Linked DNA regions of Homo sapiens: region 2 is linked to region 1. The links come from fine-mapping of genetic effects on gene expression. A gene starts in region 1. The other region holds a variant in brackets. All regions are shown on one strand. Distances are between the middles of the regions. Region 1 holds the start of SCNN1D (sodium channel epithelial 1 subunit delta). Region 2 has its middle 7.3 kb from the start of MXRA8.

Evidence for each region. PIP is the estimated chance that this variant, and not a neighbour inherited with it, causes the effect. A credible set is the group of variants that fine-mapping cannot tell apart.
Region 2: its variant is the best candidate, but not a certain one, in a credible set for the expression of SCNN1D in esophagus muscle (GTEx, PIP 0.82).

What each region holds. Positions count from the first base shown.
Region 1 is chr1:1,277,520-1,282,901 of GRCh38, reverse strand. SCNN1D (sodium channel epithelial 1 subunit delta) reads right to left here and starts at 2,466. Exons shown (of 18, transcript NM_001130413.4): 1 at 2,236-2,466; 2 at 1,605-1,676; 3 at 1,292-1,491; 4 at 587-660. The coding sequence starts at 2,240. It overlaps LINC01786 (long intergenic non-protein coding RNA 1786), which reads right to left. Exons shown (of 3, transcript NR_185846.1): 3 at 2,295-3,834.
Region 2 is chr1:1,363,180-1,368,561 of GRCh38, reverse strand. It overlaps a transcript of MXRA8 not described here. Among named protein-coding and RNA genes, the nearest start is that of MXRA8, 7.3 kb to the right of the region's middle. The variant ACTCATTCAATCACACT/T (reference allele first, on the strand shown) is at 2,119.

The DNA of each region.
Region 1 (5,382 bases):
AGGCACCTGTAGTCCCAGCTACTGGGGAGGCTGAGGCAGGAGAATGGTGTGAACCCAGGAGGCGGAGCTTGCAGTGAGCCGAGATCGTGCCACTGCACTCCAGCCTGGGCGACAGAGCAAGACTCCGTCTCAAAAAAAAAAAAAAGAAAGTGATTCACAACACACTAAGACCCCACACATGCTAAGACCACACACGTATGCTAATACCTCACACACGCTACGACCTCACACACACTAAGACCACACACGCTAAGACCTCACACATGCTAAGACCACATGCTACTGTCAGGGTCCAAATCACAGTCTCCCAGGCTGGCGTCTTCAGCCCCAGTGCGGTTGTGTGGAAGGCAGGTGTCCCTGTCCCCCAGGACCACCCCATCCCTGTCTACTGTGGGACCCTAGATATCCAGGTGGCCTCACTGTCCCAAATGACCAGACCCGAGCCGGGCCCAGGTTGGAAGGGTAGGCTCTGTGTTCCTGACATCCTGCCCCAAGTGGTGCTGGGTCCCTGGGCTTGGCTGGGGGAGCCCAGCCCCACAGGGTCCAGCAGCAGAGCCATGGCTCTGAGGAGGGTGAGGTCACCTGCCTGCCGGCTCTGGAAGGAAGCAGCTGCCACCGGTGACGTCCTGGAGAGGAAAGCCATGCTGGAGTCACCCAGGCCTGTGTGAATCACAGCTTCGTCACTGGCTGTGTGGCCTTCCCGAGTTACTCAACCTCTCTGAGCTGATTTCCTTGAGTGCCAGATGGGGCTGGGGTGCCTCTCCAAGCTCGCGGCAGGGGGCTTGCTGATGTCACAGAGACCCCACAGGTCAGCGGCAGGGCCCCCGGACACAGCACAGGCCTGGGGCTTCTCCCCCACCACATCTGGGCAGCTTTGTGCGTGGGCCGCACCTGCCGAGGAGACAGGGCACACATGGCCCGGGCGGCTACTTGGCAGGCGGGGACAAGGTCCTAGGTGCTTGCCAGAGATTGTGGCTGGAAGCAGCCTGTGCCTCCCTGTGTCCCCGGGAGTGGCCTGGCAGACAGCCCAGCCTTGGTGCAGGGTGCAGAGAGAGAAAGAGCCCAGGTCCGGCCAGTGGGGCCCGGTCCAGCCAAAGGGCAGCTTGCAGGAGCAAGGCCCCCGGCTTCCTGTAGGAGGGGGAGCCCTGGCCGGGGGCAGAGCACCCCTTCCATGACCCGTATGCCCTGCAGGGCCTCAGTCAGAGCACATCTCGGCTGGATCACGCAGCTCCCGGCTCCACCCCCCTCCCCTCCTCCCGGGCAAGGCCTCTAAGGGCTGAGGTTCAGTCACCTGTCCCACACCCCTGTATCGGGCCAGAGAGTAGGCAGAGGGGGTAGCCACAGAGCACATGTCCAGCACTGGTGAATCCACATGGTCCTCCCCCTCTTCTGGGCCATCCCCTCGCTGGCCCGGTGCAGGGGGTGGGGTGGGGCGAACCCAGCTCCCGGCATGTGGGGGTCCTGTGGTCACTGCACCATGACCAGGTGAGCCTGAATGAGAGAAGGGACGGGCAGGCATCCCTGGCTCCCTTTGGGCCCATGCCTCTGCTCTCTCCCAGGAAAGACGGCCAGGCCCCATTGACCGAGCATGGCTGTGAGCTCACCTCCTTGGGCCGCTGAGGTGGCCGGGCCACAGGTAACGAGGGAGCGGTGTTGTCTTCTGTGACAGCACTGCCCTGGAGATGGCAGGCGCCTGGCATCTGTGGGACCCCAGCCAGGACCTCCTATCCCAGAGCCCCGTTTCCTCCCCTGGGGTGAGCGTCCCCCACTCAGGGTCACTCTGAGTCAGCCCTGGGACGGTTCTGGTGCAATAGACAGGCAGCCCAAGGTCGGGATTCCCGTGGGCATGGGCAGGCCAGGGGTGGCCTGGGGTCCCTCTGGGGTCCTGCACCCAGGCAGGTGAACAGCCTCCCAGGCAGAGCCCCCTCGGCCCCGGGCATCAACTGCACTGTCCAGTGGAGCCTCCGCAGAACAGGCACTAAGGTGGCACCAAGGTGCCCCCGGCTGCTGGCCTGGGTGGGTGCTGAGGGTGGGAGTGTGGAGCTTGGGGTCTGGCCGGTGTCCCCTGCTGGGAGGAGTAAGGTGCGTGTGGGCTGCCTTCTAGGTTCCCTCATAAACCAAAAATAAAATTATAAGCCCTGAACTGTCTGGATGGACCCCTGGTCTTAGCCATGGGCATTCCAAAGTTAACCTGAAAAACTAGCTCAGCTGTGATGGGAAGGGAGTCGGACGCACCTCATGCCTCCTCCCTGCTGGAATTCAGGCACAGCATCAGCATCACCTCAGGCCTTGAGTCTGATGAGAAGCATTTATAGTTGATTCTCTCTGAGGCTTGTGACCTGGTGGCTTCATCTGCGATAAGACCTTCATCTGCACAACGCCATACTGTAACCAGACATTCCCTTCTACTGATAACAACTCTTTTTTTTTTTTATTTATTGAGATGGAGTCTCGCTGTCGCCCAGGCTGGAGGGCAGTGGCGCGATCTCGGCTCACTGCAGGCTCCGCCCCCCGGGTTCACGCCATTCTCCTGCCTCAGCCTCCTGAGTACCTGGGACTACAGGCGCCCGCCACCACGTCTGGCTAATTTTCTGTATTTTTAGTAGAGACGGGGTTTCACCGTGTTAGCCAGGATGGTCTCGATCTCCTGACCTCGTGATCCGCCCACCTCGGCCTCCCAAAGTGCTGGGATTACAGGCATAAGCCACTGCGCCCAGCCTAATTTTTGTATATTTTTTTAGTAGAGATGGGGTTTCACCATATTGGCCAGGCTGGTCTTGATCTCTTGACCTGGTGATCCGCCTGCCTCGGCCTCCCAAAGTGCTGAGATTACGGGTGTGAACCACTGCGCCCGGCCACCTTTTTCTTAAGACAAGGAGAACGACTCCCTTTTGGGTACCCCATTTGGTTTCTAGCTCGGACGTGCGTTCCTAAGGGTCTTCTCTGTTGCTTTTTCTCCCAAAATTAAGCCCAACTGGCTTGTGCGTGCATTTGCATGAGGAACTGAATTGTTCTTTGCATAGATAAATGAGAGACTGAGTTTTCTCAGCTCCAGAAAGAAAGGCATTTTGCTCCTCCCAGCTGAAAGGCGCCCCTGGGTGACTGTGAGCCAAGTGGGAGTATCTCGTGGGCTGATCCCCCACGACGTGCAGCAGCCCCACAGGGAACCCCCCAACACAATTAGTTTAAAAAGGTTTGTCTGCTGGGTGCAGTGGCTCACGCCTGTAATCCCAGCACTTTGGGAGGCCGAGGCGGGTGGATCACGAGGTCAGGTGATCGAGACCATCCTGGCTAACACGGTGAAACCTCGTCTCTGCTAAAAACACAAAAAATTAGCCGGGCATTGTGGCGGGAGCCTGTAGTCCCAGCTACTTGGGAGGCTGAGGCGGGAGAATGGCGTGAACCCGGGAGGCAGAGCTTGCAGTGAGCCGAGATCGTGCCACTGCACTCCAGCCTGGGCGACAGAGCGAGACTCCGTCTCAAAAAAAAAAAAAAAAAAAAGGTTTGTCCAGGAAATGCACATAGGAGCTGGTCACTCTGTGTTTTGAGTCCTCTCGGAGGTGTTGGACTTCTAGAGAGAGAAACAGAGACACGTAAGAGGGCGAAGATGCCTCAGTGGTGACACACTGGGGAGTCCCGCCCACGACCCGTCCACGACCGGCACACTCAACCTGCTCCACGGAACCCCATTCCACAGCTCGGTTCCTCTGCGCCCCACCTGCTCCACGGAACCCCAGTTCCTCCATACTCAACCTGCTCCACGGAACCCCAGGCCACAGCTCAGTTCCTCCGCGCCCCACCTGCTCCATGGAACCCCAGGCCACAGCTCGGTTCCTTTCAAGAAAAAAAAAAGTGGGAAATAAATAATGTAAGCCTCAGCAAAGACAAGAGGGCGACCTCCTTCCAGGCACCCCGCTGGTTTCAGGCGCCTCTACCTGCAAGTGTTGGTATAAAACTGAACATGTCGCGGGCATGCTGGGTTTCCTAGTGCCCCAGCTGGTTCCATATTATGGTCTTTTGGGGCACATTTTAAACTGATGGGCAAATTCCATCCAGGAAAAATTCAGAGCCCAAAGGTCAGCCTGCAACTACAGAACCATAGAGTTCCTGGCCAGGCGCAGTGGCTCACGCCTGTAATCCCAGCACTTTTGGAGGCCAAGGCGGGCGGATCACCTGAGGTCAGGAGTTCGAGACCAGCCTGACCGACAGAGTGAAACCCCATCACTACTAAAAATACAAAAATGAGCCGAGCGTGGTGGCATGCACCTGTAATCCCAGCTACTTGGGAGGCTTAGGCAGGAGAATAGCTTGAATCTAGAAGGCGGAGGTTGCAGTGAGCTGAGATCGTGCCATTGCACCCCAGCCAGGGCTGCAAGAACAAAACTCTGTTTCAAAAAAAAAAAAAAAAAAGAACTATAGAGTTCCTAAGTTCTCTATCTCTCTGTTTCCTTTGCTGCCTGCCTTAAAGCTGCTGTTACACTTTTTGTTTTTTTTAGGTAGAGTCTCACTGTGTTGCCCAGGCTAGAGTGCAGGGGTGCGATCTCGGCGCACTGCAAACTCTGCCTCCTGGGTTCAAACGATTCTCCTGCCTCAGCCTTCCAAGTAGCCAGGATTACAGGTGTGCGCCACCACGCCTGGCTAGTTTTTGTAAATTTAGTAGAGACGTGGTTTCACCATGTTGGCCAGGCTGGTCTTGAACTCCTGGCCTGAGGCAATCCACTCACCTTGGCCTCCCAAAGTGCTGGGATTACAGTTGTGAGCCACCGTGCCTGACCAGCTGTTACTTTTCTACTGAGATGACATCCACAGTTTGCATCTAGATGTTTCTTTCTGTTATTGTTTTTCTAACTAGTGACTTTGTGTTGATATGTCATGGTTAGAGGTGTAAAGCAAAAGCTGTAGGGTTTTTGGATGAGTGTATATGTGTGTTTAGATGTGTTTATGTGTACGTGCGTGGATTCTGATACATGTTTTGTGGCCACAAGGTATCAAAGTGGCTTAAGGAGTATGCATACATTTAGTACATAATAACAAATTTCATGTGACTTAAGTAAAAAATTTTTTTTTTTTTGAGACGGAGTCTCGCTCTGTCCCCCAGGCTGGAGTGCGGTGGTGCGATCTGGGCTCACTGCAAGCTCTGCCTTCTGGGTTCAGGCCATTCTCCTGCCTCAGCCTCCCGAGTAGCTGGGACTACAGGCGCCCGCTACCACGCCCGGCTAATTTTTTGTATATTTTAGTAGAGACGGGGTTTCACCATGTTAGCCAGGACGGTCTCCATCTCCTGACCTCGTGATGTACCTGCCTCGGCCTCCCAAAGTGCTGGGATTACAGGCGTGAGCCACCGTGCCCGGCCAAAAGTATTGGTAAAGTAATATAAGGAGT
Region 2 (5,382 bases), 86 kb before region 1:
GCCCAGCCTGGTCTCAAACTCCTGGCCTCAAATGATCCTCCTGCCTTGGCCTCCCAAAGTGTTGGGATTATAGGTGTGAGATACCACACCCAGCCTACTTTCAGACTTTTTTGATCAAGATACAAAATAAGAAATATCTTTTTACACCGCTATCTGATGAACACACCCACCATTGAAAGTTGTACAGAATAGTATCTCTCATAAGTACAATAAACTGAGATATTGCCTATTCTAGTCTTGCTGCACCTTCCTGCCTGTAATCCCGCACTTCAGGAGGCTGAAACAGGTGCATTACTTGAGCCTGGTAGGTCAAAGCCAGCCTAGGCAATGGAGCAAGACCCCATCTCTACAAAAAAAAAAAAAAAAAAAAAAAAAAAAAAAAAGCCAGGTGTGGTTGTGCCCACCTATGGTCCCAGCTACTCAGAAGGCTGAGGTAGGAGGATCACTTGAGCCTGGGAGGTTGACCTGCAGTGAGCCAAGATCGCACCACTGCACTCCAGCCTGGGCAACAGAGTGAGACTGTCTCAAAAATAAAAATGAAAAAGACCGGGCGTGGTGGCTCACGCCGGTAATCCTAGTACTTTGGGGCACAGAGGTGGGCGGATCATGAGGTCAGGAGATCGAGACCATCCTGCCTAACACGGTGAAACCCCATCTCTACCAAAAATACAAAAAATTAGCCAGGCGTGGTCGCAGGCGCCTGTAGTCCCAGCTACTCGGGAGGCTGAGGCAGGAGAATGGTGTGAACCCAGGAGGCGGAGCTTGCAGTGAGCCGAGATGGTGCCACTGCACTCCAGCCTGGGGGACAGAGTGAGACCCCGTCTCAAAAAATAAATAAAAAATAAGTTGCTCCTGATCCACTGAACTGAATTTACACTAATTCACACTCACCAGTTCACATTCACCAATTCATACGTGCCAATCCACACCCATCCACACTCATTCATACACTCACTCAACAATTCACACCTATCGACATTCACCAATTCACACTCATCCACACTACACACACCAGTTCAACTCACCAATTCACTCACCAATCCACACTCATTCACACTCGCCAATCCACACTCATTCATACACCAAGTCACACTCATCCACGCTCTAACAGTCACCAATTCACACTCATCCACTCATTCACACTACACACAATTCAACTCACCAATTCACTCAATTCACACATCCACAACCAATTCACACTCATCCACACAGTCACCAATTCACTCATCCACTCATTCGCACTACACACACCAATCCACACATTCACACTCACCAATTCACACATTCACTCTCACCAATTCACACATCCACACTCAACAGTCACCAATTCACACTCATCCACACATCCACACTCATCCACACTACACACACCAATTCAACTCACCAGTTCACTCACCAATCCACATTCACACACTCACCAATTCACACTCATCCACACTCGCCAATTCACACTCATCCACACTACACACACCAATTCAACTCACCAATTCACTCACCAATCCACACATTCACACTCACCAATTCACACATCCATACTCGCCAATTCACATTCATCCACACTCATCCACTACACACACCAATTCAACTCACCAATTCACTCACCAATCCACTCATTCACACAATTCAATTCACACCAACTCACCAATTCACTCACCAATTCACACTCACCAATTCACACCAACTCACCAATTCACACTCACCAATCCATTCAGACACCAATTCACACCCACGCTTTAACACAGTCACCAATTAACACTCATCCACACTACTTCACACCAATTCACTCAGTCACCTGTTTACTCTCATCCACACGCTTATTCACACTACACACACCAATTTACACTCACCAATTTAATTCACCCATCCACACATTCACACTCACCAATTAACACCCATCCACACTCATCCACACTTCACACCAATTCACTAATTCCCACTCATTTACACTCATTTCACACTCGTTCTCACACTAATTCATATTCCTTCACACCCATCCACACTCACCCACATTCACACTCACCAATCCTCACTAATCAATTCACTCACTCACCCTTTCACACCCATCCACACTAATCCACTCATTCACACATTCACACTCGCCCATTCACCCTAATTCAC[ACTCATTCAATCACACT/T]CATTCACATTTATTCACATTCACAGTCACCAATCCAGTCATTCACCCATTCACACCAATCCACTCATTCACACCCATTCACACATTCACACACCCATTTACACACACCAATCCACATTCGTTCACACTCATTCACGCACACCAATCCATTCACACTCATTTACATTCACACTCGCCCATTCACACATTCACACTCGCCCATTCACACTCATCAGTTCACACTCATCCACTCATTCATTCTCTCACCCATTCACATCCATCCACTCATCCACACCACTTCACACTCACCAATTCACTAATTTACACACCCGTTTACACTCATCCACACCACACAATTCACACCAATTCACAAATGCACAATCACCAGTTCACACCCATCCACACTCATTCACACACAGTCTCACGAATTCACACCCATCTGCACTACTTCACACTCACCAATTCACTAATTCACACTCAATTTATAGTCATCCTTTCACAATCATTCTCACGCTCATACTCGTCCTCCCCTCCCAGGCTCAGGCCATCCTGTCACAGCCTTTCCTAGCTGGGATCACAAGTGTGCACCACTACACCTGGCCTAATTTTTATTTTTATTTATTTTTTTTGAGACAAAGTCTTGCTTTGTCACCCAGGCTGGAGTGCAATGGTGCAATCTCAGCTCACTGCAACCTCTGCCTCCTGGGTTCAGGCGATTCTCCTGCCTCAGCCTCCAGAGTAGCTGGGACTTCAGGCGTGCACCATCATGCCCAGCTAATTTTTTTATTTTTATTTTTATTTATTTATTTATTTTTGAGAGGGAGTTTTGCTCTTGTTGCCCAGGCTGAATACAATGGCACGATCTCAGCTCATCGCAACCTCCGCCCCCTGGGTTCAAGTGATTCTCCTGCCTCAGCCTCCAGAGTAGCTGGGAGTTCAGGTGCCCACCACCATGCCCGGCTAATTTTGTATTTTTAGTAGAGCTGGGGTTTCTCCATGTTGGTCAGGCTGGTCTTGAACTCCCGACCTCAGGTCATCTGCCCACCTCAGCCTCCCAAAGTGGTAGGATTACAGGCATGAGCCACCATGCCCAGCCTTATTTTTGTTTTTTATTTTGTTTTTGAGACAGAGTTTCACTCTTGTTCCCCAGGCTGGAGTGCAATGCTGCAATCTTGGCTCACCTCAACCTCCATCTCCCAGGTTCAAGCGATTCTCCTGCCTCAGCCTCCCGAGTAGCTGGGATTACAGGCGTGCACCACCATACCCGGCTAATTTTTGTATTTTTAGATGGGATTTCTCCATGTTGGCCAGGCTGGTCTTGAACTCTCGACCTCAGGTAATCCGCCCCCACTCAGTGTCCCAAAGTGCTGGGATTACAGGGGTGAGCCACCACGCCTGGCTTTTTTTTTTTTAATATAGAGTCTCACTCTGTCACCCAGGCTAGAGTGCAGTGGTGTGATCTTGGCTCACTGCAACCTCTGCCTCCTAGGTTCAAGAGATTATCCTGCCTCAGTCTCTTGAATAGGTGGGATTACAGGCATATGCCACCATCCCCAGCTAATTTTTGTATTTTTAGTAGAGATGGGGGTTTCACCATGTTGGCCAGACTGGTCTCGAACTCCTGACCTCAGGTGATTTGCCTGCCTTGGCCTCCCAAAATGCTGGGATTATAGGGGTGAGCCTGGCCTTATTTTTTTATTTTTGACTGGGTCTTGCTATATTGTCCCGCCTGGTCTCCATAATCCTGGGCTTAAACCTCCTGCCTCCACCTCCCAAAGTGCTGGGATTATAGGAGTGAGCCACCGCACCCAGCCGATTTTTCTATCATAATTGCGTACATCAAATTTGTAATTATAACCAAGGTAGAAATGTTACATGTAACAGCCGACCTCCCTTGGTGAGGAGGGAGAAGCCACCACGGAGGATCCAGGATGTGCATTCCATGTGGCAGCCGTGGCCTGGCCCTCGCCTGAGGCTGGTGTGACAGCTGCCCTAAGACGTGCCCAGCCGGGAAGGGAGGCGGATGCAGAGTCCCAGAGGTGGAGTCTGACCCTGCAGGTGGAGCCACCGCAGGTAACTGGCAGCACTCAGTGTTCTTTGTTCCCGATTTTAAAATTGATCAGGCATGGTGTCTCACACCTCTAATCCCAGAACTTTGGGAGGCCGAGGTGGGTGGCTCACGAGGTCAGCAGTTCGAGACTAGCCTGGCCAACACATTGAAACCCCGTCTGTACTAAAAATACAAAAATTCGCCGGGCGTGGTGGCTCATGCCTGTAATCCCAGCACTTTGGGAGGCTGAGGCAGGTGGATCACAAGGTCAGGAGTTTGAGACCAGCCTGACCAACATGGTGAAACCCTGTCTCTACTAAAAATACAAAAATTAGCTGGGTGTGGTGGTGCACACCTGTAATCCCAGCTACTCCAGAGGCCGAGGCAGGAGAACTGCTTGAACCCGGGAGGCGGAGGTTGCAGTGAGTCGAGATTGCGCCACTGCACTCCAGCCTGGGCGACAGAACGAGACTTCATCTCAAAAAAAGAGAAAAAAAGCCGGGTGCAGTGGCTCACGCTTGTAATCCCAGCACTTTGGGAGGCTGAGGCGGGTGGATCATGAGGTCAGGAGATCAAGACCGTCGTGGCTAACACGGCGAAACCCCGTCTCTACTAAAAAAAATACAAAAAATTAGCCAGATGTGGTGGCGGGCGCCTGTAGTCCCAGCTACTCGGGAGGCTGAGGCAGGAGAATGGCATGAACCCAGAAGGTGGAGCTTGCAGTGAGCAGAGATTGCGCCACTGCTCTCCAGCCTGGGCAACAGATCGAGACTCCATCTCAAAAAAAAAAAAAAAAATTAGCCAGGCGTGGTGGCGGGCACCTGTAATCCCAGCTACTCGGGAGGCTGAGGCAGGAGAATAGCTTGAAACTGGAAGGCAGAGGTTGCGGTGATTCTGAGATTGCACCACTGCTCTCCATCCTGAGCAAAAGAACAAAACTCTGTCTCAAAAAAAAAAAAAGAAAAAACTGATGGATCTCGCCTGTAATCCCATTGCTTTGAGAGGCCGAGGATCGCTTGAGGCCAGGAATTTGAGGCTGCAGTGGGCCAAGATGTTTGCACCACTGCCCTTCAGCCTGGGTGACACAGTGAGACCCTGTCCTTTTGTTTTGTTTTTGAGACCGAGTCTCACTCTGTCGCCCAGGCTGGAGTGCAATGGCACAATCTCGGCTCACTGCAACCTTTGCCTCCCAGGTTCAAGCAGTTCTTCTGCCTCAGCC